Linked DNA regions of Homo sapiens. Each later gene encodes a partner of the first gene's protein in a complex. Each region holds a gene or a part of one and is shown on either strand. Other genes may lie near its edges. The genes, in order: STX8 and VAMP2.

Region 1 (4,013 bases):
TCCCCGCTACTTGGGAGGCTAAAGCAGGAGAATTGCTTGAACCCAGGAGGCGGAGGCTGCAGTGAGCCAAGATCACGTCACCGCACTCTAGCCTGGGCGCGAGACTCCATCTCAAAAAAAAAAAAGATTTAATAAGAGTTACCATGGAAACTTAGGGGGGCAAAGAGGGCACAGGTAACTGGAGGATGACAAAGAGTTCTTTGGGAAAATGCCACTGAGTTTGAGGGATTAACTAGACCACGAGTGGGGAGCTCCCGGATGGAAAGGATAGCGCGTGTCGAAGCTGGGAGGCAGGGCCCCTACCTTCTGCATCAGCCTGTTGGGGGCACCGGAGACAGCCAGGATGGCTCAAACACAGCGCGCAGAGTGCGGCTGCAGGGTTGCTGGGTCAGACTGTGCAAGACCCCCTTGGCCACTGTAAAGTTTGGATCTCAGTTTCAGCCACTGGAGGATTTAAGCAAGGAGGTGACCTGATCTCCTTTACATTCTGAAAAGCTTGCTGTAGTTCCATCGTGGAGCAGGGACCGGGGAAAGCAGTCCCTCACTGCAGGGAGCCAAATCAGGGATGGCAGTGACTGCGCATGCCTTGAGGCCTCTTCCCTTGGACCTCACGCTCCGGGTGTATGAACCAAAACCAGATGTGTGTTTTCTTCTTCCCAATCAGTTGTTGTTCTTGATTTCTTTGTTCTTGTCACTTGCTCCGCTCTTCTCATAATCACCCTGATTTGACAATTCACGGTCATTCATACTGGCCTCTGCTCCAGGCCATCAGAGCCTCAGTGTGGAGCCTGCCTTGATGCATGGAGCTTCTGGGCCCAAGTGTCCTCCCAACTGTGATCCCACTGGAGCTTCAGGAGCAGTACCTCTTCCTAAAACACCTCTCATCCTCTCCCTCATCTCCTCAGCTGCCAGCCCCTCCCTGTCATCTTAGGGTGAGCCCAGGCCCTGGAGTGCCAGGGATTGCCCCTTCGCCCCATCCCAGCCTGTGCCTGCCTCCTCATTCTCGTTATCTTCTCCTCATGTTGCGCAACATAAACCTTCACCCAGCCAGGACCAAGTCTTCAGCTGATCACCACACAGGCACCAGAATAACCAAGAACTAGTGAAGCTCCTGCCCAGGGGAGCTTTTGGTCAACCTGAAGATGTTTCTGGAGCAGAAATCAGTGAAAAGATTTGTTCTTCTGCTTCTGGCAAGAAGATGGACTAAGATATTCTCACATACACACACATACGCATACACACACACACCCGTATCCCTACCTTCTCACTGCAGATGGACTAAGATATTCACACACACACACACACACACACACACACACACACACCCCTACCCCTGCCTTCTTGCTGCAAGCATCTTGAAATGTGAGGTAAAATAGTGTAACTCCACCCACCCACAAATGTTAATGCAGGGCTGAATTTACAAGGAAGAAAGGAAATCCCTAGATGAAAGAAATGAAGAGCGCATTGAAGGCCAGCGCCTAAGTGGGCGAACTGATGCTGCAGGTGGGTCATCATCATGATGATGGAGAGCAGGAGCTAGCAAGCCTCTGGAAGAGGCCAGGTCGTAAACGGTTTAGGCTGTGCAGACCACAGACGGTGTCACATCTCCTCCTTTTACCTTTTTGACAACCCTCTACAAATATAAAAACCATTGTTAGCTCATGGGTTGCACAAAAACAGAGCACAGCTAGATTTGGCCCATGAACCAAAGTTGGCAGAGCCTTGAGGTAGACTAGGATGAGGTTTTCATCTACAGGAAGACGGGGGAGAAACCTTGGGGCCCCAAGAGAAGCGTTTCTCAAAAGATTGGATCATCAGAGAAAGAGCCCATATCAGAAAAATGCAACCACAGTCACAGGTAGATGACAAAGAAGCTTGCCCTAGTTTTTTTTTTTATTTTCGTTTTCTTTTTTTTTTTTTTTTGAGACAGAGTTTCACTGTTGTTGCACAGGCTGTATTGCAGTGGTGTGATCTCAGCTCACTGCAACCTCCGCCTCCCGTGTTCAAACGATTCTCTTGCCTTAGCCTCCCAAGTAGCTGGGATTACAGGCACCCACCACCACACCTGGCTAATATTTTTTTTTTTTTTGAGACAGAGTCTTGCTCTGTTGCCCAGTTTGGAGTGCAGTGGCGCAATCTCGGCTCACTGCAAGCTCCGCCTCCCGGGTTCACGCCATTCTCCTGCCTCAGCCTCCCAAGTAGGTGGGACTACAGGCGCCTGCCACCACGCCAGGCTAATTTTTTGTACTTTTAGTAGAGATGGGGTTTCACCATGTTAGCCAGGATGGTCTCGATCTCCTGACCTCATGGTCCGCCCGCCTCGGCCTCCCAAAGTGCTGGGATTACAGGCGTGAGCCACTGCGCCCGGCCAATTTTTTAAATATATTTTTAGTAGAGACGGGGTTTCACCATGTTAGCCAGGCTGGTCTCGAACTCCTGACCTCAGATGATCTGCCCGCCTCGGCCTCCCAAAGTGCTGGGATTACAGGCATGAGGCACCGTGCCCGGCCTATTTTTTTAAATATATTTTTAATAGAGATGGGGTTTCACCATGTTGGTCAGGCTGGTCTCGAACTCCTGACCTCAGATGATCCGCCCGCCTTGGCCTCCCAAAGTGCTGGGATTACAGGTGTGAGCCACTGCACCCAGCCACTTGCCATACATTTTTAAGTCTCTTCAATATTCAAAACCATGGTGCAGTGCCCACATGGGTTGAGCTTAAGATTGGTATGGCCTGATCCACATTGAACCCTGAGGATCTGTGGAGGGGATTCGGGAAGCCCGTGAACTTGGACCGGAAAGCAAATTGGACTCTTATGTTCACAAATGTCTAATTGAAATTTAGCATTTTCTTTGCTCACGAACATATGCCACAGACTACCGTGGCGTTCAGCAGTCCTGATGGCTGTGCAACCATGTGACCCTGCACACGTGGCTCTCCCTGTTACTTTCTGAAGCATTTTCATGGACCTCTCCTCCTCTGCTACCCACCTCTCTCGTGGGGCCTTGGCAGCTCAAGGACTCTTCAGTGAGCAAACCTTTCTTGAGTGCTTACTTTGTAGTAGGGCGCCCCTTCTCTGTTATGCTATACCTTGTCGCCGCTGGTACCTGGCACGTGGTAAACACTCGTTAAATACTGGGCAAGCGAACATGGGAGACAGTGAGCTCATTGCACTAAGTGAGGGCTGCATTCTGTGGGGCCCACTTCATCAGCATCAGGTGAAGGAACAGGCAATGGTCAGTGCAGACACACGACCCAGAGGAGGCAGGGCGGGGCTGGAAGGCAGAGTGGCACCCAGCATGGGCTGGCTAGGAGGGCCTGTGCTCTCCAGCCAAAAACGTCAGGAAATGAAACTAGCAAATACTAGCAGAAAAAGTATATATCAAAACAAGCACCTCTATCGGTGAATATTTTTACAAATGGGTGACTTAAGGATCTTGGACTCAAGAACACAAAGTGAAGCCATGTGGAGAATGGAGAAATGGGTTCTAGAATGCTCTCCTAAGCCCTTTGCTTTATCAATGCGTCATCAATGCATAATCTGATTGGGTAGTGAGGGTGGCTGTCGTCAGCAGCTTGCGCCCTCCCTTGTGGTCCAAGGTGTACACAGATGCTAGAGTTAGGGGCCTCACCCCCTCCTGGCTTGAGTGCTGCCTGGGGGGGCCTGGCCACACCCAGGCCCCTGCCTTCTGCACTCAGCATCCTGCAAAGCCAGAGCTGTGTAGCAGCAGCGGCGCCCCAGGCCACCGACCACCTCTCTCCACTTCGTACAAACTGAAGGCTCAGAGGGAACTACATCCCTCTGAGTCTCTGCAGACACTCAGAATGTGTGATGCTTTTCTGGTAGGAATCATTAAAAGTAGTATTTTCTGCTGCTTTTTTCCAGGGATGATCATGGTGATTTTACTGCTGCTTGTGGCTATCGTGGTTGTTGCAGTCTGGCCGACCAACTGATGGCAGTAAAGAGACCACCAGCAGTGACACCTGCCAATGACAGATGCAAGCCCAACAC
Region 2 (4,195 bases), 1.1 Mb from region 1:
ATACAAGAACTAATGGGGACTAACTCCTCAGTAAAAAAAGAAACACAGGTTGAGAGAAGAGTGATGGAACAAAAAGAAATGGAAAGGGATAGCAGTATGTAATGATACGCTAATTAACATGCTGGACGCTCCCAAAGACCTTGGGATTCTTAGGACCAAGTGGGGCCAGTCTCAGAGCCTCCCAATGGATACAAAGAAGATGTACCTAAGGAAGCCTGGACAGGTGCTGTTGTTTTTTTTTTTTTTTTTTTTTTTTTGAGGGCGGGGCAGAGGGAGCATGACGGGGAGAGTGAGGAGGAAAGAGGAAAGGAAGGCCAGGGTGGGAGGAAGGATCAGCTAAATCTGAGGGAAGAAGAAGGAAAGGAGAGGGACTATTGCATAGCAGATGCAAATGAAGGGACTTGGGGCTAGTCAGGAAGAAAGGGAAAGGGAAGGAAGGCAAGAGAGAGGGGTGAAGGGAACCTCAGGAAGGGGTGTTAAGGACAACCGGAAAAATCATCTAGTAATAAAACTACAAACAGACCAAATATATATAATATTATATATGTATAAATAACAGCTGGCTATTTACAGGGGGACACACACACGGACACACACACACACGGATCCAGGGGAGTGGGGGCTGAAAGATATGGCTGAGAGGTGGAGGAACGGCTGAGGGTTGGGGGAGAGGCCCTTCTCTAGGCAGGGCAGACTCCTCGGGGATTTAAGTGCTGAAGTAAACTGTGGAGAGAGGGGAAGAAGATGAGGAAGAGGGAGAGGGGAGAGAAAGAGAGAGAACAAGAAAGCAGTGTGTCAGGCCTGGCCCTGCTCCAATCCTCCCCACTCCCCAGCTGGCTGACACCCTCTCTTGGACTCAGTTTTTCCATCTACAAAGCAAGGGGCTAGACAGGTAGGTTCTGAGGTCCCTTCCGCTCCATGGTATGGCCTTGAAGCCACAGACCCTAATCCTCTGAGCCTCTGAGACCGCAAGCTCTCAAATAATGGGGTGGTTGGCTTCCTGGTCATGTCTCAAGCCCCTGGTCCTTTCCTTTCTCCCACTCCTCAATTCCAGGGTTCTCAGACTGGGCTCTTAGGCCTAAAGGGTCCTCAATGGATACACCAGCTTTCCTATTTCCAAATGTTAACAAGACTGCCAAGAACTAGGCAAAATGCAGGCTAAATAACATCAAAGTTTTTGGCTCTAGATGAATCAGAATTGCCATTAGCAGCTATATGTGTTTTTGGCTGAAGAGTAAAAACTAGATTAATGACCTTCAAAACCTAGAATCCACTGGGGAAACCTCTCCAGGGAAAGGGCCCCGGCCATTCTCACCCTACTCACCTATGATGATGATGAGGATGATGGCGCAAATCACTCCCAAGATGATCATCATCTGGGGGTGAGAGGCGAGGATCAGTAAGACAAACTATGATACCCCATTCACCCACCTGTCCTCCTTCCTGTCCCCACCCTTACCTTGAGGTTTTTCCACCAGTATTTGCGCTTGAGCTTGGCTGCGCTTGTTTCAAACTGGGAGGCCCCCGCCTGGAGTGCATCTGCACGGTCGTCCAGCTCCGACAGCTTCTGGTCTCGCTCCAGGACCTTGTCCACGTTCACCCTCATGATGTCCACCACCTGGGAGAAGGGCCCACGAGGCAGGGGGGTGTGCCAAGGCCCACCTCAGTGAGGGCAATCCTCAAACATGTGCCCACCGTGCCACACATGGAACATGCACCCTGATACTGCCAGGTTAACATGCCAAGGACACACAGAACATGCCTAGCACACCTGGGGACATGCAAGGAGCACACATCAGGGGCATGCTGGTGACATCTCAGATGTCATAGCAACACCCTCCCTCTATGGAACCTCAGGCGCTCTGTCCATCACCAGAGCACACCTGCCCAGGCTGGCACACCCCAGGCTAGCAAAGCTGATTAACACCCCCAGCGCCCTTCCAAGTGCGTGCTGACAGGGAGACAGGGATGGGGCATGGTATCTTTGTCCGCAAACCCACAGGCGTGAACTGTCATCACTCCCAAACCAACATGGGCCCCTACACCTATACGCCAACCCCCAGGGTCCCTCCTACTGCTTTTGACTCCCCCCACACTCACCTCATCCACCTGGGCCTGGGTCTGCTGCAGTCTCCTGTTACTGGTGAGGTTTGGAGGGGGTGCAGGGGGACCACCCTCCCCAGCCGGGGCAGCAGGGGGGGCCGTGGCAGCGGTAGCAGACCTGAGGAGCAGGGACGGATTAAGACCCAGGGCCTGCAGCCTCCCGGCCCCGCAGCCAGGGCTCCGCCCATCCACCTGTCCATCCTCGTCCCTCCAGTCCTCCTTTTCGGGAGGAAGGCCACCCGATGTAAGCCCTGGTCTCGGTCCAGCCCTGCCGCCGATGAGCTGCGTGACCTTGAGCGAGGCCCCCCCGGCCTCAGTTTCCCCGCCTGTCAACTGAGGGCGACCTCACAGATGCGATCCGGGTCGACCCGAAAAGACAGGCGGCCGCGGTGACAGGGGCGGGGAGGGGCAGGAGGACACTGGGTCCGCTCCTTCCCGCGGCCATCGCCCGAGCCGGCCAGCCCGGGACGCGGGGCTCCTCGGCCGCCCGCGCGCAGTCACCGGCTTGGGCCTGGCCCCGGGGCGCGGGGAACGCAGGAGAGACCCCGGGCACTCCCGACGGCCGGTTGCCAAGGGCGGCGGCCGGCGCAGGGAAGCGCGGTGAGGGTGGCGGGCGGCCGACTCACATGGCGGGGGCAGCGGGTGGAGGACTTGGCAGCGGCAGTGATGGCGGCGGCGGCTCGCGCTGGCTCCGACTGGCGCTGGCTGCCCGGGACGGAAAGATGGCGGCCGCGCGTCACCCGCATCCGGGCACTGCGGGCGGGGGCGGGGCGCCGCGGGAGACGCGTCGCGAGCGGGGCCGCGGGGGCGGGGCGCTGCGGGGCGCTGCGGGGCGGGGGTCGTGCCGGGCAGGACCACGGGCCCCGCGCCACCATGCCCCGGCAGCTCCCTCGGCACTCGCGGGACCCCAAGGCGGGCTGCTGCGGCTTCCCCAAACCCACCGCCACCCCACCCTGTCTGACCACAGCCCCCCCAAACCGCCTGCCGCCTGCCCCTTAGAGCACAACGCAGCCTGGCCCTACACCTAACCCCCAGACCACTCCCTCAATCGTGAACCCAGTAAACCAGCCTGCACCCCACACAGCCCAAGGTCTTGCCCCGCGCCCAGGTCCCAGCACCTAGCGACCCGCCTTCAGCACTTGGAATGGGCTGGAGTTGGGAAATCAGAGAGGGCCAGTGCAGGTGCTGGGGCAGTATCGAGAGCGGGGACCTTACTGCTAGGGTGGAGAGGAGTGGGGGAGATTGGTCCCAACCCATCACCGCTGGTGGATGTCTCAGAGGAAGCCTGGGGTCCCTGGCCACTGGGTAGGAGGGTAGGAAGAAAAGATGAGGCAGGCTCTTCCCGCCCAAACAAGTCCAGGGGGCGGAGGACGGGGGAGTGTCTACAGGGTGTGGGGAGGGGGCTGCCCCGCCTCACGATTAAGGTTCAGACTAGGGGTACTTAACCGCTGGAGCAGGCCCGACTGAGGTGGGGTGAGCTGAGGACCCCGAGGAGGAGGGCACAAGGCTGCCGGGGGTGATGGGGGCAGGGGCTGCTTCACGTGGTGGCTGCTGACTGGCCAAGACCTAGCTTTGCCCCAGGCTTAGGTCAGCGACCCGACTGCAGGAAAGGGCTCAGGCTTTGGTCCCAGGCACAGGGCCTGGGCCAAAAAAAAAAAAAAAGCCTTTTTTCTTTTTCTCTCATTTTTTTTTCTTTAGTAGTAGGCACAGTGGGCACAGGTTACAAGGTGCTGCTTTACATGCGTATTCGCCTCGCAGGTGTGACCTTGGACCGTTGCCCTCCTCTCTCTGGACCCCAAATACATTGCATATGTAGGTACTAAATCCATATTTGTTAAATGGCTTGATGTGGATAACATAGGAGATTATCCCTGGCTGGTCTCCATTAGGCCCTCTAAGCACACCCAGCAGCTGTATACACTCCCACCCAGCTTGTCAGAGAAGATGGGACCAGGGGAGCTGTCGCTCTGGTGGAGTGCAGGGGGTCAAAGCAAGCCTCAAGGGTGCAGGAGGCATTTTAGGCGAGGCCCTTTGGCCCTGGGGTGGGGGTGCTTACTACATCCCTGGAAGGTGCAGGGAGGCTGATGGCCTT

What was found.
Region 2: STX8 (region 1) and VAMP2 share a complex: the UniProt entries of both Homo sapiens proteins name them as parts of the SNARE core complex.

Annotation. Positions count from the first base shown.
Region 1 is NC_000017.11:9,250,520-9,254,532, reverse strand, and holds part of STX8 (syntaxin-8), read left to right. Parts: intron 1-3,887; coding exon 3,888-3,955; 3' UTR 3,956-4,013. UniProt on the Homo sapiens protein: Vesicle trafficking protein that functions in the early secretory pathway, possibly by mediating retrograde transport from cis-Golgi membranes to the ER.
Region 2 is NC_000017.11:8,160,149-8,164,343, forward strand, and holds the start of VAMP2 (vesicle-associated membrane protein 2), read right to left. Parts: upstream 2,801-4,195; 5' UTR 2,732-2,800; coding exon 2,730-2,731; intron 2,729-2,729; exon of another isoform or gene 2,304-2,728; coding exon of another isoform or gene 2,296-2,303; intron 2,222-2,295; coding exon 2,101-2,221; intron 1,619-2,100; coding exon 1,460-1,618; intron 1,377-1,459; coding exon 1,325-1,376; intron 724-1,324; coding exon 707-723; 3' UTR 1-706. UniProt on the Homo sapiens protein: Involved in the targeting and/or fusion of transport vesicles to their target membrane. Major SNARE protein of synaptic vesicles which mediates fusion of synaptic vesicles to release neurotransmitters.